Linked DNA regions of Homo sapiens: region 1 is linked to region 2. The links come from fine-mapping of genetic effects on gene expression. A gene starts in region 2. The other region holds a variant in brackets. All regions are shown on one strand. Distances are between the middles of the regions.

Region 1 (8,000 bases), 160 kb before region 2:
TACATATGGACAAATATTTACAAATTGTAACTCACCTGCAGGTTGAAACATCAATGATAACTTTACTATATTATTTCCAGAAAGCTATTAAAGTCTCATGAAAGCAATAAAAATTGGTGAATAAACTATGAAAAAATAAGGCTTCTAAACCCTTACAATGTTATTATCAAAACATCCGGACAGCAGTATTTGGATAGGAAAAAATGATTTTATTGCTGGAGGACACATTGGCTTATACCCACTAGATACTACCAACAAATGGGACAGGGCATTAAACATCTCTCAAGGTAAAAACGTTTCACCTTTCATAGATGATCTATGTTAATTACTGGAATGACAGACTTAAATAAATAAATACTGCTAAATAAAGTTAAAATTACCTTTTTTTTTCCCCCTAGAAAAGAGTTAACTAGCAGGTCTGATACTGTTATATTTAAAACATCCTGCTTGCAAGGTTGGCCACTGGCTGGCATCTATTAACTTAGATTTTTGGGAATGTCTCCACCAACTTAACTGATAAAAGTGGTCATTGTGCCTACACTGTGGATGCAAACAGTACAGCTTAGGCTGAACTTCTGCTTTCCTTCTGGGAGTTTGGGATTTAGGACATTCTAAGCAGAGGGTACCTACATGACCAACTCTCAATAAAAACCTTGGACACAGGGTATCTAATGAACTTTTGCCAGTGGACATTTCACATGTATTCTCATAATTTGCTGCTGGAAGTATGTGCACCTTGTGTGACTCCACTGGGAAAATTTGGGAGTCTGGAAAGCCTGGTTTCCTCTGGACTTTACCCCATATATGCCTTTTCCCTCTGCTGATTTTGCTTTGTATCCCTTCACTGTAATAAATCATAGCCACAAGTAAGACTATGCTGAGTTCTGTGAGTCCTCTGCGTGAATCACAGAATCGGGGGGAGGAGTGGTCTTAGGATACCTGACACATCATAAAAAGGTGATGTTTATGTAGTCCTATTAGTAAGTCCAGAACAACACATACAATGTCAGTTAGAAAACAAAGAAGACTTTGGTAAAGTATGGGAAAACAAAAAGGGTCCCCATAAGATAGTAAACTGCGGACTTCTTGACTTTTGAATGACACAGCCATTGACAACTGCTTAACGGTCCAGTATACAGATGTTAAAAACATAAATATATATTCACAAGTGGTTTCTGATTCTATCTCACACACATACATACATGTGCACACAAGTTATAAGCAAACACATGCAAAATGTCTTTATTTTCACAAAAGAGTTTAGTTTCTTTTTTTTTTCATAAAGCCTTTCTTCAGGGTGAAGTTTCTTTGTTTTTAAATCTAGGACTTTAAACTCAAATAACCAAACATTTAAAAATCTATTATGCATTATGATATGACTATTTTAGAAAAAACTTCACCAGAATCTTCTCTTTCTTAAAAAATAGAAATAATTAAAACAAAAAGCCCTTAAAACGTGAATATTCTTAGTATTTCCGCAATATGTACTTATAAAACAAACATTAGTGAAAATCAACTGACACTATCAAAGAGAAGAGCTTTAATAAGCACTTCCCAATATACCTATAAATGCACAATATAAAACTAAACAGTTACCATGTACCTTTTTAATTAACCCTTGGAAAGTACGCATTTTGAAGATATCTTCCTTTTAAGGCTAAATTTAGACACAAAGAGATAAAAAGGCAATTTTAAATTTGGGCTTCATAATAAGGCAGCATGGCTTAGTAAAGTTTTTGAGGATGGAAACACAATTTTTCTCTTAGAAGAAAACACAAAAACCAGTTGTGTTTCCTTTAGGGAATAAACTAAATGTCTCAGACTTCCTTAAAAAAAATTAACATTCCCTTTTCACTATTTCTAGATGTTGGGCCTGCCAAATAGCGTAACATTTTATTTTGAATTTAACTCAGATAATTACAGTAAGCTCTTGGGCTGATCTGCCCAAATATAAAGAACTAAGCATGAAAATTAAAAGTAGTATGATAAGCCTTTCTTATCCCTTTAAATTTGATCCTAGAATACCATTAGCCACATGGGCACAGTTTAACTCCTTGATGTGGGGCTCTAACCCCACTTCTAGCCATGCTTATCTTAGAAATACTGAGAATAACTGCTAAGGATGGTTAGCAAAACTTAGAAACCACAGACCCTTTTTTCATATATTTATGTCATCTTAAAATGCACTGAATTTTTACCTAGTTTAGAAAAGAACATGTAAAAATATTCATGATTATAATTTGAACAACTTCATTATGTTTAATGCTGTTTCACTGATCAGAAATTTCTTAGCTGCTAGTTGATTCCGAACATGAAATGAAAAATTAAAGACATTCAAATGTGTTTATATAATTAAAATTGAATGTATCAATACTGCAAACAGTTAATAATAAAGCCAAAATGTGGTAGGTAAAAAAATAACTAACTTGAGCTATTTCATGAGTTATCAAATTTCTCCTCCTTAATACATTAGTAGTAGGATATAAACTGTATTTCACCTTCCATTAATCTTTTCATATTTAGAATCTCCTACTTTTACTCTATGTATATACATAACCACATTCATTATATCTTACATCTTTATTCAGGGATGATAATTATTAACTCCTTGTAGAGCACCACACACAAGCACCTAATAAATGTTAACATTTCTCATGCTGATAAAAGTATTTTTTGCACATTTCAATGGTGTCAGATATTTACTCAGCTATTAATGTGTACTTTGTTCTTGCTAGGTATTTCAAAACTCATTCTAAGAGGAAGACTAAGAGGACAATGACACACTGTAGTGCTGTCCCAAATAAGCAGAGAGAGAGTAGAAAAGCAAGCAGTGTTGGGAAGGGACAGCAGGGAGCAATGGCCAAGTGGAGAAACTGCCAGGATAGAGGAAAGGAGAATTACCTGGAATGGGGAGGAGATGGGGAAGACTTCCAGAAGAGCAGAAGCTAGGAAGCCCCTGGGGTGGTGCAGGCCCACAGTGGGAAATGGTTCACGGTGTGTCTACATAGCGATCTTGTCTCTAGACCTGTGGACAGGGCAAGGACCACCAGCTAATGTTTGTCACACAAGAAGAGCTGCATGCCTCCAAGCATCACACAGGCTGGGATACTAAACATGTAAGAGACCAGTGTGCACTGAAGACAAGAAGAGTCCTCTAGGACTGTCCTAGGAGACACATAAGAGCCTGGGGAACTTTGCATGATTTAGTAGGTGGGAAATTCAATGACTTACACTGACTCTTACAAGTGATAGCTGGAATCAGATTTTCTTATCATTTAAAAACTATTTCTTACATATAAATGTTATTAAGGAACAAAATTCATACTAGCCATAACAGTAACATTCCCTGGAAAAAGAAATGTAACTTAAAACAATGATGAAATCTTGAACGCAATTTTTCATAAAATAAAAACTTCAACTGCATAAATATCCCTACATATGATGAGAATTTAGTCTTGAATTATTTACTTAAAGTTGAGAAATTGGAGACTCTAAAGTTAGGAAAAACATTGTGTCTTGAGGAATAGATACTAATTCCATGTTTTTAAAAATGAGAGCAAGTAAACATTATCACTCATTGAATCGGTGCTTTGATCTTGTCCTATTTAAAAAAATTTTTTTTTGCCTACTGATATGGGGAAGCTCAGGGTCAAAACTATTACGTAAATTATCTAGTGATACACTAACCCCTCACTATTTTTCTTTTATTAAATGCCCATCACTGTAATTACCTTAAATCCTGCTAGAAAGGGGCAAGGTAGAAATACTGAAATAGAACCTTTGGAGGCCATTTTGAACTTAAAGAAATTTTTATACTATTTGTGTTATTATGTAACTGTTTT[GT/G]TTTTTTTTTTTTTTTTTGAGACAGAGTCTCGCTCTGTTGCCCAGGCTGGAGTGCAGTGGTGTGATCTCAGCTCACTGCAACCTCCACCTCCTGGGTTCAAGCGATTCTCGTCCCTCGGCCTCCTGAGTAGCTGGGATTACAAGCATGCATCACCATGCCCAGCTAATTATTTGTATTTTTTTTTTTAAGTAGAGATGCAGTTTTGCCACGTTGCTGAGGCTGGTCTCAAACTTTTGAGCTCAGGCAATCCACCTGCCTCAGCCTCCCAAAGTGCTAGGATTGCAGGTGTGAGCCACTGCACCTGGCCTATGTAACCTTTTTTAATGTCAGTGCTAGGATACAGGCTAATCCATATTTTATTGGCATGATATTTATCTCTTATAAGAGGCTGCCCTTACATTTCATAAGAATGGCTATGGTTACAAAAGCCATATTAATAGGCAATATGCAATGAGTCAAGTTCTATTAATAAAACCTTCTATAGCAAAAAAAAAGGTTAATATGCTTAGAGATACTGTTAGATAATAAAGTCTATTCAAATAATTTAAATCTAAAAGGAAGCCTGATAAGTTACCTTTAAAAGTATTATTTAAATAGGTAAAAGTAAATGATGACACCCTCATATCCATGATTCAGATTTAACACTTGTTAACTTTTACCATAAGAAATTACTTTTTGCCTGGGCGTGGTGGCTCACACCTGTAATCCCAGCATTTTGTGAGGCCAAGGTGGGCGGATCACAAGGTCAGGAGTTTGAGACCAGCCTGGCCAACATGGTGAAACCCCGTCTCTAGCAAAAATACAAAAAAATTAGCTGGGCGTGGTAGTGCACACCTGTAATCCCAGCTACTCAGGAGGCTGAGGCAGGAGAATCATTTGAACCCGGGAGGCAGAGGTTGCAGTGAGCTGAGATCACGCCACTGCACTCCAGCCTGGGCAACAGGGCAAGACCCCATCACGAAAAAAAAAAAAAGAAAGAAAAAAAAAGAAATTACTTTTCAATATAAGTGGAAAGGCTTTTTGATATATTGTCTAAAGCTTATTGCAAATGTTTTCCTGAATCACTAATGTGAATTCTAAATAAAAAAAATATATTAGTTATTTAACAGCCAATTCACAAGGGAAGAGGAACTATAACAAAACTACTTCCCTGTTTTGTAACCAAAAAAACCAAATTAGAATAATTAAAGAAAAAGTTTCAAATGCTTGCCAACAAAATCCTAGGTCCCACGTACAAAACAGCTAGATGTCATGGGAAAAGAATGCTATAAGGTACAGAGAAAAACCACTAGTGAAGCATATGCACCAAAATGGAAATGCAATAAATGACTGTGGGTGTTAAATATTTTCATCAAAGAAATTCTGAAACTATCATACAATATCATTTCCAAGCTAGCTGAGAAACTGAATATACTAATACTGATTATAGTGCAATTTAGAGAATACTGATCATAGTTCAATTTAGAGGAAGGCAGGCCATAAAATCTGCTACTGGATGGCCTATGCCAAATTCAAAACAAATATGCCAGAAGGTTGAAAGTGCCAAAACTAAACTACTAATTGTGTCCCTGGTATAGCAACTCAAGGGATGAAAGAAAGGAAAATTCTATGTACATAATTAAACCAATGGAAATCAATGGTTCATAAAGCCATTCTATAGTGGGGGTGTGGGGACATTCACTGCATAGAGCACTCAGGAGCCAGACTACCTGTGCCGGAATCCTGGGTTTGGCCTGTGGTTTCCTCTGCAGTAAACTATGTTAACAAAGTAAGTTAAATTCTGACAAATGGTAATTAGTGTATCCTATAATAGTTACTTATTTCCTGGACAAACAATACATTTTATATTCCACAAATTATATATAATTAGAAAAGGGGGCAAAAGAGAACTATAAAAGCAAATTCATTCAGGCATTTACTGCAAGCCATAATATTTAGGGTTGTGGATAAGGAAGGTAAGGAAGACATGGTCCTTCCTCTCAAAGAGCTCACTACTAACTACAACTTGATATGGAAAAAAAACAAGGGTTCCATCAAAGCTTTGAGAAAACAGATTTTCACAAATAAGAAAGAGTAAATGCAGATTATCTTAAAGTTTTCCTTCGAATAAATCAGCCAACATTATTTACCAATACACCAAGCACTTTCCAAGCATAGAATCACGATCTCTGACTTTCTGGTCACCTTTCTGGTGACCAGAAATAACGATGGGGCAGAGTCTCTGTATTACCACCTACGCTATTTGTGACATTGCAGGGCAAGCAAAGGCATCTTTCAATTATTAAATAAATTGAGTTGTTGACATTCAGATTTTCTTTTAGAAACAGAATAACATCAACATTTGCTTAAAGCTCAAAAAAATTCCTCATTTATGCTAACAGTTGTTTTTGAAAGTAATCCAAAGTGACAAATGTAATTTTAAAATGAAAACAGAGTCTATAAAATTTGCATATATAATAACCTGTAGGCTGCCATTTTAGGCTTTGCATATTTTCTGTCCTGCAAAAGGAGAAGGAAAAGAGCAACTGAATACTCTAATGGTCTTGTCGTCTATTACAAATAGCAAAGTGGGTGTATCTTGCCTTCTTTTGTCTTTAAATGCAGTTTCCCAGTGAATCTATTCGGCAAAAGAACACTAATGAAAGCAACACCATTATTATTCGACTTTTTAGTTATTCACAGAAGTACCTTATTGCCCTTATTCCTTCCATATGTGTACCCATCAGTAAATAACCTCTAACATAGATGTTGATCTTCCACTATTTTTGAGTCTCTAAAGGCAGGAAATTATATTAAACTGCATAGAAAGAAATATATTCTTAGGTTTCTGTGGAGTTTGAAGACAGATTCCCCTGAAATATTTAAAATATTGTACAGCCTCAGCAACAGTGAGACTTCACCTCCACAAAAAAACCCACAAAACCTACACCTATATATGGCTAGGCACAGTGGCTCATGTCTGTAATTCCAATACTTTGGGAGGCTGAGGTGGGAGGATCACTTGAAGCTAGGAGTTTGAGACCTGCCTGGACAGCATAGCAAGACCCTATTGTTATTTAAAAAATTAAAAAATAGGTTGGGTGTGGTGGCTCACACCTATAATCCCAGCACTTTGGGAGTTTGAGGCAGGAGGACTGTTTGAGCCCAAGAGTTTGAGACCAGCCTGGGCAACATAGGGAGACCCTGTCTCTATAAAAAATCAAAAAATTAGTTGGGTGTGCTGGTGTGTGCTTGTAGTCCTAGCTACTTGGGTTGCTGAGGTGGGAGAATCACCTGAGCCTGGGAGGTCAAGGCTGCAGTGAGCCGTGATTGTGCCACTATATTCCAGGCTGGGCAACAGAGTAAGATCCTGTCTCACATAAATAAATAAATAAATAAATGAATAAATAAATAAATAAAAGATAAAAATAAAATGTCATAGAAGACAAAGGTTTACTATTTGCAAGATTAAATAAAAACTTTTGAGGTGGGGAAGAAGAAAGATAAAAAGAATAACTCTCACATGTCATGCTGCACTCTAAATCAATGACACAAGGTCTCCAAGCAGGTATTTGTATTTTCTGCAACATGGGGTGTCTCTGTGTAAAAAGTGAAGTAGAGGTTCCCCTTCAAAGACACTTTCCTCCCCGTCTAATTAAGGACAAATAGTGACTTCTCTTAGAAGTAAAATTTATTCAAAGACCTGTCATAACATCCTTAAATATCTGCTAGCCGTAATAAAGAAATCAATATACTTTGTGTTCTTAGCTCCTACAATTTAGCCTAAATATCTGCCTTGGCATGCTTACATTGGTCCAAGCAAGCATTAGGTGACAGCCTGTTCCTCTTCCTTATTTGGAGGTGTTTTTACCTTTCTCAGCATTTCACAAGTTACTTCCTGCTTCCTTTGTTCTCCCCTGCCTTTGCCTCTTTTGAAAAGTTAAAGTTGCTAGCCAATCGGGACAAATACAGAATGTGAGGTTCCGTTCCAGCCAATGGAAACCAGACACAGCAGTAAGGTGGATGTGTCAAGTTATAAATGACCCTGTCTCCTTTGTTCGGTATACTCTCGTGGCAAAACTGCTGGCGAGTGTACCCTTTCTGCAGAGAGTAAAAATGGCCTTGCTGAGATAATTAAATTTATGTTCAAGTGCTATTTCTTTGTGGCACCGGGGAA
Region 2 (17,191 bases):
GAAAGGAGTGTGCCAGCAGGCAGAATGCTGAAAGAAAGGTCAAATAAGAGGAGGACTGATTGAGTGTCATGGAAGTCACTGATGACCTGACAGGAGCTGCTTGAGGCATGTCAGGAATTAAGAACTGAAGAAATGGAAGCAAACAGACTATTTGAAAGCTCTCTGAATTTGATTTTGAAGTGGAGGAAATCTGGAAGATAGCTGGAGGAAAATGAGTATGTTTTGTTCTTTTACTTTCTCATGGAAGGCTTGTGAATATATAAAGCCAAAAGCAAAGATCCAATTGAGAGAAGAAATGGAATAATCAAGAGGATAAAGTTACTTTGGAGAAAAGTGGAATCTTTCCCTCACTATATACAGTGCTTTAATAATTGTTTAATCCTCGATGATACTAGAACAGGACAGGCTCAAATGTCAGTAGTGCTGGTACTAAAAACAATGAAAAAACTGTGATTTGATGGCAACTCTTTTGTAGAAGGCAGGCTTAGTCACTGAAAGGCAAACTTGCTGGTGAGTAAAAGTCCCATTTGAGGTTGCCTTCTTGAGACCATTTCCATCACTTGGCCAGTAAATGCTCTTAATTCTCACAACCCTAAGAGGCATATGCTACTATCATCATGTGCACATTTCCTGAGATGAGAAAAATGAGGCTCTGCTTCAGTGTCTTCTGCAATGTCACACGGCTTGAACATGGCAGAGCCAGGTTTGACCTCAGGGCCCAAGTTCTTAACATCTACTACCCTCTCCAGTAGTACATTACTACACTTAATCAAAATTCTATTAGCATTTAATGTTAAAATAAATCACAATGGGCTGGGCGCGGTGGCTCATGCCTGTAATCCCAGCACTTTGGGAGACAGAGGTGGGCAGATCACCTGAGGTCAGGAGTTCAAGACCAGCTTGGCCAACATGGCAAAACCCTGTCTCTACTAAAAATACAAAAATTAGCTGGGTGTGGCGGCGCACGCCTGTAATCCCCGCTACTCAGAAGGCTAAGGCAGGAGAATCGCTTGAACCCAGGAGGCAGATTGCAGTGAGCCGAGATCGTGCCACTGCACTCCAGCCTGGGTGACAGAGTAAGACTCTTGTCTCAAAAATAAATAAATATCACAACGAGGAAAGTTAATTTTTAGAAAACAGGAGTTAGAATAGACATCAGTACTATGCATAATTTATACTTTCATACACTGAAACTTCAAAAAATGGGATTGTCAAGAAGGCAATAACTGGTCGGGCGCAGTGGCTCACGCCTGTAATCCCAGCACTTTGGGAGGCTGTGGTGGTCGGATCAACGAGGTCAGGAGATCAAGACCATCCTGGCTAACATGGTGAAACCTCATCTCTACTAAAAATACAAAAAAGTAGCCGGGTATGATGGTGGGCACCTGTGGTCCCAGCTACTCGGGAGGCTGAGGCAGGAGAATCACTTGAACCCAGAAGGCAGAGGTTGCAGTGAGCGGAGACTGCGCCACTGCACTCCAACCTGGGCGACAGAGTGAGACTCCATCTCAAAAAAAGAAAAAGGCAATAACCAAAATGAAGCATAACTCTCATCTAATGAGACCCCTGAAACAGCAATGACTAGCTATAAAAAAAAATTGTAACACCTCTTCATGTTACATCCAGAAATGTATATAAGGGATGCTTCAAGACTCTAAAATGCCTCATCTTAGGACAGGTATTTATATCTAGCCAGAATGCTTTATTGGTGTTTTAAAAGTTAAGAAATGGCCGGGCGCGGTGGCTCACGCCTGTAATCCCAGCACTGTGGCAGGCCCAGACGGGCGGATCACGAGGTCAGGAGTTCAAGATCAGCCTGACCAACATGGTGAAACCCTGTCTCTACTAAAAATACAATTAGCCAGGTGTGGCAGTGCGCACCTGTAATCCCAGTTACTCAGGAGGCTAAGGCAGGAGAATCGCTTGACCCCAGGAGGCAGAGGTTGCAGTGAGCTGAGATTGCGCCACTGCACTCCAGCCTGGGCGACAGACTGTGACTCTGTCTCAAAAAAAAAAAAAAAAAAGTGAAGAATTATTCCAAGTTGATAGGTCAGTATTTCCACACATGTACAACTAATTACAATGCCAGGCTCTGATAATGCACTATTTTACCCTGGGCTATGAAAGATTGTCACAGTGAACATCAAGTCCCCCTCTCTATCATAGCAACTAAAATCTTCTATACTTTAAATCAAGTATACCACTTAGAAAAGTTCTTCTAGATAATCATATTTTAGTAGGAGGAACAAGACAATCTCCTATCATAATTAAAAGGCACAGTTCAGGGGGACAGTAATGTTTGAAAAATTGGCTTTCTTCAAACTTCACTGTACATTCTACTCTTCATTTACTCATCAGTTCAACAAAAATAAACAAAAGAAAAATCCAAGTCCCTCTCTCAAACCATTCCAACTAGTTTGATTTTTTTGAGGGAGTTTTACAAGAATTAACATTAACAGAAATGAAAATGAATGCTAACCAAAGTGAGAATACACATCATATACTGACACAATTTCAGAAACTTAGTAAACAAGCCTTAACACTTTAAGGAAAAAAACTGTTTCAAAAGTGATTTAATCAGTAAACCAATTTCAATATTTAGGCTATCAAAGGGGAAATGAATACTAATGTGGAAAAATATTAATAAGAAATGAAAATAGGTATACTGATAAAGCATAAAGTGCTAGCTAATAAAGTATCAACAGTGGCTGCTCTATCATCAGTCTCTCAAGAGAGACTCTTACTCTTCTTTGCCTAGCCAGTGCAGTATCTAGAACTCAAATGAGGTTCATAAGGGTTCGAACAAGTGACTTCTAGAAGAAGAATTTAAATGTTTTAATAATGTTAAGAAATCCAGGTACATCAAAAGACCTAAAAAGTCAAATCCAGAAGTTGTATTTAATGGAAAGATTACAATGTTAATAAAATCACAATAGCCACTAGTACATCTCAAGATGATCTGCCTGTGACACTTGTGACAGATAAAAACTAAAGGGAAAAAAAGCTACACCCCAAGACAAACTAAAAGTATATTATTATGAGCTGCTTTCTTAGTGCTAGAAAGTTTACCACCCAACAAAGCCTACCATCACAAGAAATATTACAAAAATTGTTATACTGTAAAATCCTCATCACCAAAAATATTACAAAATCTATTATACTGTAAAATTCTGATTAATAGGCCCAAAATAAATATCAAAGCTGAAAAACTAACATCCACTAGAATTTTAAATTACCTGCAGGGATTCCCTGCTTAATATAGATACAATATCATCTCATGTGAGAAACTTGCTATAACAAATAATTCAATTTCTTTGGAAATAAATCACAACTTCTTATTAAAAAGTATTTTCTTCTAAAAATCCTGTGAAACCCTTTAAAATGTTTCTTCCAATGAGCAAATACCTGATAATAGAAAAATTCTTATACATGGGGCTACTTAAAATATTGTAATTCATGTAATCCATGTTCTCATCATTATCCAGAAAAATGAAGAGAGAAATATACTTAAAGTTCCTCAGAAAAGTATTATTCAAAGTCTTAAACTAATTGCAGTATTTATTACGACTCGTTGGAGTCACATTTTTTGTCAAAAATGTTACACATTATGACAATGTCATAGAACAGTCTAAAAAGAAAATTTGGTACAGAATTACAGGGTAAAACTGAAATTACATTTTTTTCCAACCATAGCAACTCTAAGAACCTTGGGAAATGTCAAGACTTAAGATGCCTGATAGTTTTGTATAGGCTTAAATAAATATTTTCTCTCATACCTTTTTAAAAGCAGGCGGTGCTCTCAAAGGCAAGAAATTCCCTGTAGTTTCACATATATAGAGAACGTTCTTTGAATCAACAGTGCTAGGCATAGGGTTAACACAAGGACTACAGAGACTACAAATTGCTGGTTAACTAATTCAGTGATAGGTACTTGAAAATACCTACTCCCACTCCTAATACCATTATCTAGTTTCATGAACCAACTATTCAAGAGGCCCAAACTTAACCCATGCTATTACTTCACATTCTTCTTTTATAAAGAGAAAAATCTCTTTTCAAATAGGAAAGATACTCACAACTGGGCACTTCCACTGAAGCTTTTATTCTCAATCTTTCAAAACGAAAGCTTTCTATCACTGTCTTTCTAGATCTATCAAAACACTTAGCAGAAAAAACCTGCCGGGCACAGTGGCTCAAATCTGTAATCCCAGCACTTTGGGAGGCTGAAGCGGGCAGATTGCTTGAGCCCCAGGAGTTTGAAACCAGCCTGGGCAACATGGTGAAACCCCATCTCTACAAAAAAATACAAAAATTAGCTGGGCATGGTGGCACATGCCTGTATCTCCAGGTACTTGAGAGGCTGAGGCAGGGGGATCATTTGAGCCCAGGAGGCAGATTGCAGTGAGCCGAGATTGTGCTGCTGCACTCCAGCCTGGGACAGAGCAAGACTGTCTCAGAAAACAAAAACAAAACAAAGACCCGATTAGTATGTACTACATTCTTTTTCCAATAAAGCCATTAAAAAACTGAAGAAATTTATATTATTCTCCTTTACATCTCAGGTTATGTCTCCGTGGCAACCATAGTGAATAGTACCTTCCACACCTAAAGAGGGGCTAACCTCTAATCTAGCCATGTTTAGCCTATGTGTTGCTGTGCTCAAGTTAGGCTTTATTTTCCTACCTTAATAAAAAAGCCGGGAGCTGGGCGCAGTGGCTCACGTCTGTAATCCCAGCACTTTGGGAGGCTGAGACGGGCAGATCATGAGGCCAGAAGATCGAGACCATCCTGGCTAATACGGTGAAACCCCATCTCTACTAAAAATACAAAATATTAGCCAGGCATGGTGGCGGGCACCTGTAGTCCCAACTACTTGGTAGGCTGAGGCAGGAGAATGGCGTGAACCCGGGAGGCAGAGCTTGCAGTGAGCCGAGATTGTGCCACTGCACTCCAGCCTGGGGGACAGAGTGAGACTCCATCCAAAAAAAAAAAAAAAAAAGCCAGGGAGGCCAGGCGCGGTGGCTCACGCCTGTAATCCCAGCACTTTGGGAGGCTGAGGCAGGTGGATCATGAGGTGAGGAGTTCAAGACCAACCTGACCAACATGGTGAAACCCCATCTCTTCTAAAAATACAAAAATTAGCCGGGCGTGGTGGTGTGCGCCTGTAATCCCGGCTACTCAGGAGGCTGAGGCAGGAGAATCTCTTGAAACTAGGAGGTGGAGGTTGCAGTGAGCTGAGATTGCGCCACTGCACTCTAGCCTAGGCGACAGAGTGAGACTCCGTCTCAAAACAAACGAACAAAAAAAAAGCCGGCGGCACAGGCTCACACCTATAATCCCAGCACTGTGTGAGGCCAAGGCAGTTGGACCACCTGAAGTCAGGAGTTCAAGACCAGCCATGCCAACATGGTGAAACCCCATCTCTACTAAAAATACAAAACAAAATCAGCCAGGTGTGGTGGCGCACGCCTGTAATCCCAGCTACTCCAGAGGCTGAGGCTCGAGAATCGCTTGAACCCAGGAGATGGAGGTTGCAATGAGTTGAGATCATGCCACTGCACTCCAGCCTGAGTAAGACTTTGTCTCAAGAAAAAAAAAAAAAAAAAGCTCTATATTAGTAATGAATACAACTGCAGTTTTTAATGGCCATAAACTTACAGGATTCTTAAATGCATAAATCACAGAAATATGCAGTAACTGCAGCTACATACACAGTCCTAAATAGAATATCAGGTTTAAGACTCAAAGTACAAAGACCATTAAAAACATTTATTTGCCAAATCCAGTGAGAAACTAGGAGCAACTTAACAGCTGTCTAAATAACCACAAAATATTAAAAAATACTTCTGGCTCAATGTAAATGACATCTGAAGAGAGATGCTGCCTCCTCCAACAGACGTCTCATTTGTTCGCCTAGAACCATTTATATTTCATTGAAGCCAGCTGGTGTCTCCGTTTGCAGGCATGCATCAATGTCTGGTGAACAATCTATGTTCCTGTAAACCCTTCCCCATTCACAAGCTGCAGTTTCCATTTTTAATGGCAAGTTTCCAGCAAGTACAATGAGTTCTTACAAAGGAACTTAACTCTTCACAGAATTCAATTCCTAAGGCAGATTAATGGTACCAAGCCATAAACAATGTGAATTAATGTGCCTAACAAACTCACAAATACATTAACATTCACAGAAGGGTATCTTCAGACCATTCATTCACTACATAATGAAAACAATGTGCTGGATTTGATTGACGGTCTCTTATAATGTTGCAATATTTTGGTTTTATTAAAATTCTTTCTTGGGAATGTCATGACAATCTTTTGGCTAAATGGTAGTATTATGAGATGTTTCAAAAACCAATAGTAAAGCATACTTTGGTTTTCAACTAACTTACCAGGGTAAGTATTGATGCAGCTACTAGAGGCATTCATTTCACCAACGATATTCAATGCTTCTGCTCCCCCTCCCCTTACTTCCACTGATCACTTTTCCTTTTCCATACCCAGGGGTATTATAAACCTCACTGCTGACACCCCACATGAGGGTAAGCAAACTTTTTCTGTAAACACCAGAGAGCAAATATGGAGTTTTCGGGGCAATATACTGTGTGTGACAACTATTAAACTCTGCCATCGTCACCTGCAATGAACAATACTTAAAAAAAAAAAAAAAAGAATGAGCACAGCTGTGTTCCAATAAAATTTTATTTATGGACACTGAAATTTGAATTTCACATAATTCTCACGTGTCACAAAATAATTCTTTTGATTCTTTTCCAACCATTTAAAAAATGTAAAGAACATTCTTAGCTCTCAGGCTACACAAAAATATGGCTATACTTTGTCAACCATCCCTAGACCCTGAACAGCATTTCTGAATTAGTAACACTTAGGTGTCCTAAAAAACAGGTTTGGGATAGCTGTGTGTTAAGGAGTCCCTAAAAAATTCATAATGCCAATTAGCATAATAAAGGCTCTAAGCCTTGCGGTTAAGAAAGCAAGCTTAACTTCCGTCAGCTCAGCTAGTCCTTCCTTTTTCCTAGTATTAAGTTGCAACAGTTTGAAAAATATTTAAATAAGAATAGTCAAGTCAAACTTCCTGGGATGACTAAAATGATAGCTAAGGTTTAAAACAGACATCCAAGTTCCTGAAACTAATAAAGCCACAACATGACTTCAGCTATGCCATCAGAAACTGAAAGTATCTAGAGGAGAACAATGATAAAATAAAGTGTATACATGCTCTGAAAAAAAGTCACTTTAGTACTCTAGTTCTACATTAATTTGTATTATATTTGAACTCACAGATGTGAAAGGAAAACAAAGAGTTCCCACAAGTTTGCCAATCTCAATTTGGTAAGCCACTGTCTACTTCCAAACCTAACTACTCATTTTAGTTAATGACAGATGGGTATTTACTCCCATAAAGTTTAAGAATAATCGGTGTTAAAATAGGAAGCTAAAAATCAGGTGCATGAGAAAATTATTTCCAAGTTTACTAACATGAAAACTGGGAAGCTCTTTGATACCTGCACAACACTGCAGCTCCCATTATGACATTACAAAAAACATACAGGACCATACCCCAAATTGGCCATATAAACACAAAGTCAAACTAAATTACATTTAGAATGTCATTCAAAACTACCGTTTAAAAAATGTAATTTTAGCAAGTCAAAATTTCAATTTCAACTTGTTTTCTCAAGTAAACTTTTTGCGATAATATTCAAATTAGTTTGGAAATAACTTTTAGCAGACTCAGAATCAATAAGGATGTGATTTTAGGTTTCAGGATATAATCAAACTTCCAAAGTAGATGTCAAAAAAAAAACACCTTGAAGAAAATAGCAGTATTTTGGAAAGTGAATGTGAATCTCAATCAGCTGGCTTAAACAATTCCAATAATTCCAGTCGTTTTACTACAACAGTCCAATTAATTTAAACTTGAGATAATGTGGAGCCAACTGTATTAACCAACGCTACAGATATGCCAATGAAAAGTCGTTTACAAAGGATCACAATTCTGAATAAGTGTGCTTTAAAGGGGAGGAACATGGTATAGTCCCCAATTGTTCACATACATGCCCAAGATTATTTTGACATTGAGATATAGTACTTTAATTCCCAAACCTAGCACTGTATTAATTCACTCCCTCGACTGAAATGTATTGCTGGTTAGCTCCTTAATGACCTTATTTTGAAATGGCTTTATTAGTTAAGTACAGAATCCATTTCAATTTCCAATGATACCATTTCACTAAAAGACAAATTCCAAAAATGTCAACCACCAGTAGCTCATTCTTGACATTGGCTGTTTCCTTTTTTTTTTCCCAAAGTAAAGCCTAACAATTAATCAACAAATGCCTTTTCAATCTAATTAAAACACAGTTTAGTAAGGTCATTAAATAAATTTATCTAAGAATTTCCGTAAAAACTCACTACAACTCTAAAACAGTATGTCCTTAAATTAGACCAAATATTTAATAGCAAAAATGGTAGCTTGCATATTCGAGGGTCACTCCATGGATTTAGAAAATATTTTTAAATGTGACAAAAAAAAAAAAACACTAAAGTCAGTTTCAAATGGAAGTCACCAAATACAGAGGTATATACTTCGGTTTTTTAAGCTACTGATAACGAGACATTTAAATCAAGCTATGGAAAGGCTTTGTCTAAAGGGTGATATTATTACTAAAGGCTCACACAGAAATCTTTGCATGCTACACACAAAGGAAACATTTACACTTCTAGTCCACAAAAGCCTATCCTAGGATTGTGCCAGGGGCACACAAGGATTTCAAAGTACAGAAAAAACTGGGCATACACATGCCCTACAAAGCAGCCAAAAGACATTCCCCAGTCTCTCTCAGGAAATGTTTCAAGATGAAAAGCAAAAGTCTGAAGTCCCTTGGAATCTTGGGTTGATTTCTTCATTATTCTCAAGGCTAGGTTGTTTTCCCCCAGCATACTTTGTTGGGCAAAAATAAAACATTTCCAAATAAAAGCAACTCCTCAGCCCCAATTTTCAATGCAATATGCTTATTAAAAGTTCAACATTTCTCAAGGTCTAGACTTATAGTGTGATCATATTACAGTACTCGGGAAGAGCATTTTCTTTGTTGTTGACCCTGCTAGGGAAACAGGTCTTGACTCAGCCAAAGTGGCGTTCTTGTGGGTGATTAATGACAGGCCTAGATCTCGCCCTAGTGACATCCATCCCCCACCCCCCACCCCCACTATACTAAAATCAGCCGTGTCTGAACTGAAGGAGGGGCTGTAGCCTCGCCTCAAACCACCCAGTCCCAGAGTTAATAGCTGCAACCAATCGATTACGGCAAGCACACATCCAGATTGGGGTGAAATGTGACCCTTTCGCCTAAATTTACGAATAATATCGTCCTCTCTGATCATTTCCGCTGGGGCTCCAGCGACTACGGAAACAATTCCAATCATTCGGCCCAAAGAAAAAGATGTCCCTGTTCTACCCAATACGGGCAAGGCAAAGCCCCTACCCACCTCCAAACACTATCCCCTTGACATCAGCCCATTTCTATTGTGTCTTATTAGGTCCTCGGGCTACGAGGACCTAGTGAAAAACGTGGCTGCCCTACTACTTTGCTAAGAACAAGAACCACACAGTCCGGCACCCCCACCCCAGGGGCCGCATCCCACACCCCAGGACCCCTGTTCCCAGTTCTCTCCACTACCCCGGCGGCCGCGGGGCCGGGTCCCACCTGTGGTGAGGCGGGAGGAGACGTCGCCGAAGGGGGATGGCTCCATTCGGAGATACTTCTGCGGCGAGGCGGCCGCAGCGGAGAAGGAGGCGGCGGTGGCCGCGGCCGCCGACAACGGGGAGGCAGCGGCCGAGGTGGGCGCCGACAATGGCGCACATCGCCTGCGCTTCGGGGACGCCGGGCTCAACAGCGGGTCGAAATCCAGAGTCCTTTTCAGAGTGGCTCCGCACGCCATGGCCGGGGGCAGCTGAGGCGCCGGGCTCGGGTGGGGTCGGGGACGGGTGACGAAAGAAGAGGGTGAGGGAAGGGGTGAAGAGCGGGAACTCGAGGAGAGCCTACCCGACGGGCTCAGGAGCCAAGCGGGTCGCGGAGCGCCGGCTGTGGAAAGGAGAGCCGCTGCCGCCGCTGCCTCCGCGGCAGGGGCAGTGGCCAGGGACGGCCCGGGTGAGAGCGGGAGGGGCGGTGGCGGGCAGAAGCACACGCCAGTCGCGTCAGGGGGGTTCTTCCGCCTCCTCAGGCGCGGCTCCCCCGAGAGAGGCTCCGGCCGCCCCCGCCGTCCGCTCGAGCTTTGCGCCGCGCCTGAGGCGCTTCTGTGCTGAGACTAGATCCTTTCTGAAGTCGAAAACAGCACCGTGGGGTGTGAGGCTGGAACGCGGCTCCTAATACGCCCGAGTACGGTCAGTAGCTTGCGAGCGGCGATCGATGCAGAGAGATTGCGAGGTAGCTGCCGCAGCAGGAACCCAAGCGAACACGTCCAACCGCTTCCCCTCCCTCGTAGAACTCTCCCACCCGCCGCCGGCCCCAATATGGCGTCAATAACAACGCCGCCGATTCAAATCCGGCGGCCTCAGAGCGCTTGCGCACGGGGGCGGGCCAAACCGGGGATGCATTTTGGGAGTTGTAGTTTTTAGGTACCGGGAGGAATCGGCTTGAAAGGCGGGAAGGGAGGAGTCACAGAAACTACGACTTCCGTCATGCAAGGCGCGCGATTCCGAGTTCCGGGTTGGAATTTAAATCCCCCTACACAGCTTGAGTGTAAGAGGAACTAAGCAAAAGAGAAAAAAAGAGAAGGTTCTGAGACAGTGGGAGATGGGAAAGCGAACCCGTGGCAAAAGCAGGCTAAGCGACATAGAAATCTTTTAAGATTCTCCGTATAGTTGCTCCCACAGTGATTTCAGATCTGGGAAATATAATAAACCAATCTCTAGTCAAAGTTAGCTTAATTTCGGTAGCGACAGTACCCAAAACAAGACCTTTCACATGGAGAGGATAGGAGATAATGAGATTATGAAACCTATTTAGGACTGGCAGACAGAACAACAGTAATAGTATCAGGTTACAGGATCCTTGATTCAACTCGATGCTCTACCCTTCGGAGGTAGCTGCTTCATCCACTAATGAAATTCTGTAAAGCCAGCTTTGCTTCTGTAAATGAATAGGACTTGAACGACTTACAGAATCAAATTGTTTTGCGTTGGGTAAAAAGCAAGTGGTATCAGACATTGCATTACTTCTGTTGAATATTGGTGCATATATTGTGAACTTTGTTACAAAACTAATCAAAAGACAGTGAAATGTTTAGGTAATAGATATTGGATGGATCCATTTTGTAAGCGGAAGGGGAAAAAAGTGTTTCTAGAAGTTGTACTTTTAGTCACATACCTAAAATAAGAATCAAATACAGCGCTAATTTAGAAAGTGATCTGTGTAGCCGGGCATGGTGACTCACGCCTGTTATCCCAGCACTTTGGGAGGCCGAGGCAGGCGGATCTTCCTGAGGTCAGGAGTTCGAGACCAGCCTGGTCAAAATGGTGAAACCCCGTCTCTACTAAAAATACAAAATTAGCCGAGCGTGGTGGCGCGCGCCTGTAGTCGCAGCTACTCGGGAGGCTAAGACAGGAGAATCATTTGAACCCGGGAGGCGAAGGTTGCAGTGAGCCGAGATGTTGCCACTGCACTCCAGCCTGGGTGATAGAGCGAGTCTCTGTCTGAAAAAAATGAAAAGAAAAGAAAATGATGCCGGGCGCGGTGGCTAACGCCTGTAATCCCAGCACTGGGAGGCCGAGGCAGGCGGATCACGAGGTCAGGAGTTCGAGACCAGCCTGTTCAACATGGTGATACCCTGTCTCTACTAAAAATAAAAAAAATTAGCCGGGCGTGGTGGCGCACACCTATAGTCCCAGCTACTCAGGAGGCTGAGGCAGAAGAATCGCTTGAACCCGGGAGGCGGAGGTTGCAGTGAGCCAAGATCAAGCTACTGCACTCCAGCCTGGGTGACAGAGCTAGACTTCGTCTCAAAAAAAAAAAAAAAAAAAAAAAGTGATATATGTAGAAACTATCACCAGTGCAATATGAAACAATTTTGTGAATGCCAACTGTCAAATGATTATAAATACTGATTTCCAGTGCTCATGTATTCTTCTTTATTCAGTAACAGATGTTTTATAGCCATTTTGTCTATTATTTTTAAACCATATTTAGAAGTAGTTCAATATATTCTTTTTTATAGACAATTTTATAGAATTGTCCAGTGCTTCAGAGATCAGCAGTCCTGATCACACTGTGTCAACAAGTAAGCCCTTCTAGTTTTAATTTAGGATATTTGGAAATATCCTACATTTCCTACATTTGGAAAATCTTTTGAAAAAGATAAGCATTTAATGAAACAGCAGCTTAACTAAGACACCTACTAGGTAAATTTCTAGTAAATTCTAAACACTTGGTAATATTTTCTGAAATTAAGATTTGCCCATAAGTTATAAAACCTACATTTGAAATGTGATGTTGTGAGTTAAATTCCCTATGTTTGAGGGAATTCAAGGACTTCAAAATTCATATGAAGTCCTAACCTCCAGTACCTTAGAATATGACTTTACTTAGGAATAGGATTATTTCAAATGTAATTAGCTAAATGTAGTAGGATGGGCCCCTAATCCAATATGACTGGTATTCTTATACAAAAAAGGAAATTTGGGCCAGGTGCGGTGGCTCACACCTGTAATCCCAGCACTTTGGAAGGCCGAGGTGGGAGGATCACTTGAGGCCAGGAGTTTGAGGCTAGCCTGGGCAATGATAAGAAACCTCATCTCTACAAAAATTTTTAAAAAATTAACTAGGCATGGTGGTGGTCACCTGTGGTCCCAGCTACTCGGGGCAGCTGAGGTGAGAGGATTGCATGAGCCCAGAAGGTTGAGGCTGCAGTAAGCTGTAATCACACCACCACACTCCGGCCAGGGTGTCATAGCCAGACCCTGTCTCAAAAAAAAAAAAAAAAAAAAGAAAAGAAAAAAAGGCCAGGGTGAAGGGGAGACTGGGTGGGGGTGGGAATTTGAACCCAGGCATGGGCCCAAGGGAATTTTGACCCACATGAACATGAACATGAAAATAGAGATTAGGGTGATGCTTCTACAAGCCAAGGAATGCCAAAGATTGCCAGCAAAACACCAGAAGCTAGGAGAGAAGTTGTTCTCCCTCAGTCCTCAGAAGGAACCAACCCTGAAAACACCTTCTCAGAGTTGTATTCTCTAGACCATGAGACAATAAATTTCTGTAGGTTAAGCCATCCAGTTTGTGGTACTTTGTTATGGCAACTGTAAGAAACTAATACAGAGAGGATTGTGGTTATCAGGCTATCATTTGAAATATACCAGAATGCCTAGAAAATGAGGAAAGTATTTTTTTGTTTAATTGTGGAGACAGAGGTCTAAGTTGCCGAGGATGGTCTCAAACTCCTGGCCTCAAGTGATCCTCCCACTAGCATTACAGGCTAGCATTACAGACTAGCATTACAGGCCGAGCCACTGCACCCAGTCAGCAAAGTGTTGTTGTACTTAAAGGTGGTGGGGGATATCTGGTAAACTTGATAGTTTAGTCATAATAGTTGCCTGTGTGGTCACCGCTGCACAGTATATTTGCAAAAGGCTGTCAAGATTAAACAGTGACAGGGCTGGGGTGCCTCCCCTTCTACCAATGACTCAGGAAGCTACTTCAGAAACTAAAAAGACAAGGGAGACCCTTCCCTATTCACCTATGTCTTTGCTTAGGCTCTCTGCTCCACACTTCTTGCCTGACTACTTATATTTTAAGACTCAAGCCAGGCATTAACTCCTCCAGGAAGCCCTCCGCAGTGTTTCAAAGCCAAGTTAGTTTTATAGCCTCACAGAGAAAGAGACACCTATCTGCATATTTTCATCATTATCCTCACCACACTGCAATAAAATTCTGTTCATGAATCTGCCTCTCCTGTCATTGTGTTAGCTCCTTACCAATAGTATAATACCTTGCACGCTTCAGTAAATGTCCACTGAATATTTCTTAAACATTTTTTATCACACTATCCCCAGTAGCCCACATTATCCTTGTTCCTTTATAGATCTGCTAAAATACTATAGCAACCCTTTTAGAGTAGAAGGAAGCTGTTGAAAAAAAAAAACCTACAAAAGTATTTATTAGGCTAAACTTGAAAATAAAGATAATACTTAAAAGCCGTAAGTCATGACATAGTATATTTTACTTTTATTTTTTAGAGACAGGGACTTGGTCTGTCACCCAGGCTGGGGTGCAGTGACACAATCAAGGCACACTGCTGCCTCGACCTCCTGGACTCAAGTGATCCTCCTGCCTCAGCCTCCCAAGTAGCTAGGACTACAACCTTGCACTACCATACCCAGCTAATTTTTAAATTTTTTGTAGAGACAGGGTCTCAGTACATTGCCCAGGTTGGTCTTGAACTCCAGGCCTGAAGCCATCCTCCCACCTCGGCTTCCCAAAGTGCTGGGATTACAAGTGTAAGCCACCACAATATATTTGAAAAATGAATTTATTTTGTTGATCAAGAAGAAAAAGACAGCAGACCTTAAGATGGGAGACGGGGGGAAGGAAGTACTAAAGAGGAAAAAGAGCTGAGGGCAGTGACTCATGCCTGTAGTCCCAGCACTTTGGGAGGCCAAGGCAGGGAGGAGGTCAGGAGTTCGAGACCAGCCTGGGCAACATAGCAAGACCCCCATATCTACAAAAAATAAAAATGTTTAAAAAAAGAAAAAGAAAAAAGGAAAGAAAAAATAAGAAAAAGAAAACTATATTTAACACATTAATAAGTTGAATCAGGTCACATGAATCTAAATATACTGTACAGCTAATGGCTCCAGTGACCTACACAGACCAGAATTGCTCTTGTTGTAACTAAAAAGCCTGTAACAAGTTTTAAAGGTTTAACATATTTAGAATAGTTTTACCATGACCTAGCAAGTATTTTCTGATTTGTACAATCTCAGAAGCCTCTGAAGAAAATTAAACTATTTTACCAAGATACTGGTCTTGCTTGGTATTAGACTTTCCTAACACCTCCCAAAATATTCTCCAGGATCTGATTCTGATGAGTCATTCTTTGACTAAAGCCAATAAAAGTAGACATAGCTGGGTAACATAAGACCTCATCATCCTGAGCCTGAAGATTGTCTGCTTATATTAAATCATTTTCAAACAATTTTTTTCTGATGTCAAATAAAGATAAATGCAAATATATAAGGTGTGGGGAGGTGTTTGCTGACTTCTCATACTGAGTTTGAATAATCATAGGCTCAGCATTAGGAACGGCAGTTCTAATTCAGGAGCCACTTCAAATCTATATTCAGAACAAGGATTGTCTAGGGCAGAAAAATTGTTTAATCGTTGTGTAAATGAGTGCAGTTAGGGAAGAAGAGACATTGTAATTCCTTCTGCATAAGATTTTGCAAGCTGGCCCAAATCTCTTCTAAGCACCATATTTGGAATACACAGTACTTTCTGTTGTAGATATGATACTGACTAATTTTTCAGTTTTCATAATTTTGGATGTGGTCATTATTTTGAGTCGATTGGGTAGATCACAGAGTAAGCAGAACCATATATCTGCCAGTTATTTCAAGAGGTCACCTAGTGCGATCCAGTCTCAAGGCAAGATTACCTGTTAACTACTCAAGCCAGACCAGTATCTGACTCTCCCCAAAGATTGTCAAGAACATTCAGCATCCCGTTCAAGTGTAAAAAACACAATTGCAAATTATTTTATCAATTCAGTTGGCGCAAAAGTAATTACAGTTTTTGCCATTACTTTTAATTACTTTTGCACCAACCTAATATAGCTTTCACCTCTTCATCAGCGACTGAGTTCTCCTTATACAATGCCCTATGCACTCCAGGAAATAAACCATGATTCACTTAGCCTGAGGAACGTTGAAAAGAAATTACAGGATAATCTCTGGCAGTCACATTAAGATATTATGAAGTCCTTATTTTTATTTTTTTTTTTTTATTTTTTATTTATTTTTTTTTTTTTTTTGAGACGGAGTCTCGCTCTGTCGCCCAGGCTGGAGTGCAGTGGCGGGATCTCGGCTCATTGCAAGCTCCACCTCCCGGGTTCACGCCATTCTCCTGCCTCAGCCTCCCAAGTAGCTGGGACTACAGGCGCCCGCCACTACGCCCGGCTAATTTTTTGTATTTTTAGTAGAGACGGGGTTTCACCGTTTTTAGCCGGGATGGTCTCGATCTCCTGACCTCGTGATCCGCCCGCCTCGGCCTCCCAAAGTGCTGGGATTACAGGCGTGAGCCACCGCGCCCGGCCGAAGTCCTTATTTTTAAATTTGCATACTTTTCTTAAGTATGTGCCCTCAAGTACCTGCACCCTTCTTCAAAAACTGTTTACTCTTAACTTGACAGAAAATTCAAATGTGCTTGGGGATCTTATTTTCCAGTCCAAACCAACTGGAAGAATATACTAGGAGAGAGAAAAGAGAATTAAAGGTGCTATACACTGGCTACAACAAGCAGTAGAATCATTGGATAGCAATAAAAGAGACTGTCAAAAATAACTACAGAATTGAAAAAGAACAACAACGTTGAGACACCTCCCTGTCAGGACAATTAGCCCTACCGCGGCTCAACTGCAGCTGAGGCTCCCTTGTATTATTATAATATCATATATAACAGTGGTAGGGTTGCCAGATTTAACAAAAATATAAGATGCCCAAATTCAAATTCAGTTTGAATTTCAGATTAACAAGGAATAATTTGTTAGTATAAATATGTCACAGGCTGGAATGCAGTGGCCCATGCCTGTGACCCCAACACTTTGGGAGACTGAGGCAAGAGTATTGCTTGCGCCAGGAGTTTCAGACCAGCCTGGGCAATATAGTGAGACCCTATCTCTATTTTTTAAGAAAGTCACAAATATTGCATGTATTTAGCTGAAATCCAGATTTTACTGGGTACCCTGTATTTTATCTGGCAACCCTAAGTAAGGAGCACAAGACAGTGACCATGAATCATCAAGAAAAGCACAAACTATGTTTAGTATGCAGTTCAAAAAATGTGTAACAAACATGATATTAGAAAATATTCTGCCCGGCCATCAGAGAAATGCAAATCAAAACCACAATGAGATACCATCTCACACCAGTTAGAATGGCAATCATTAAAAAGTC

Evidence for each region. PIP is the estimated chance that this variant, and not a neighbour inherited with it, causes the effect.
Region 1: its variant is fine-mapped to the expression of AKIRIN2 in whole blood (INTERVAL, PIP 0.96).

What each region holds. Positions count from the first base shown.
Region 1 is chr6:87,531,834-87,539,833 of GRCh38, forward strand. All of the region lies in intron 8 of RARS2 (arginyl-tRNA synthetase 2, mitochondrial), which reads right to left. Among named protein-coding and RNA genes, the nearest start is that of RARS2, 54 kb to the right of the region's middle. The variant GT/G (reference allele first, on the strand shown) is at 3,843.
Region 2 is chr6:87,691,719-87,708,909 of GRCh38, forward strand. AKIRIN2 (akirin 2) reads right to left here and starts at 10,515. Exons shown (of 5, transcript NM_018064.4): 1 at 9,732-10,515. The coding sequence starts at 9,966. RefSeq lists enhancers at 6,771-7,290, 10,407-10,466, 10,777-11,086, 13,912-14,031 and silencers at 9,687-9,896, 10,077-10,246.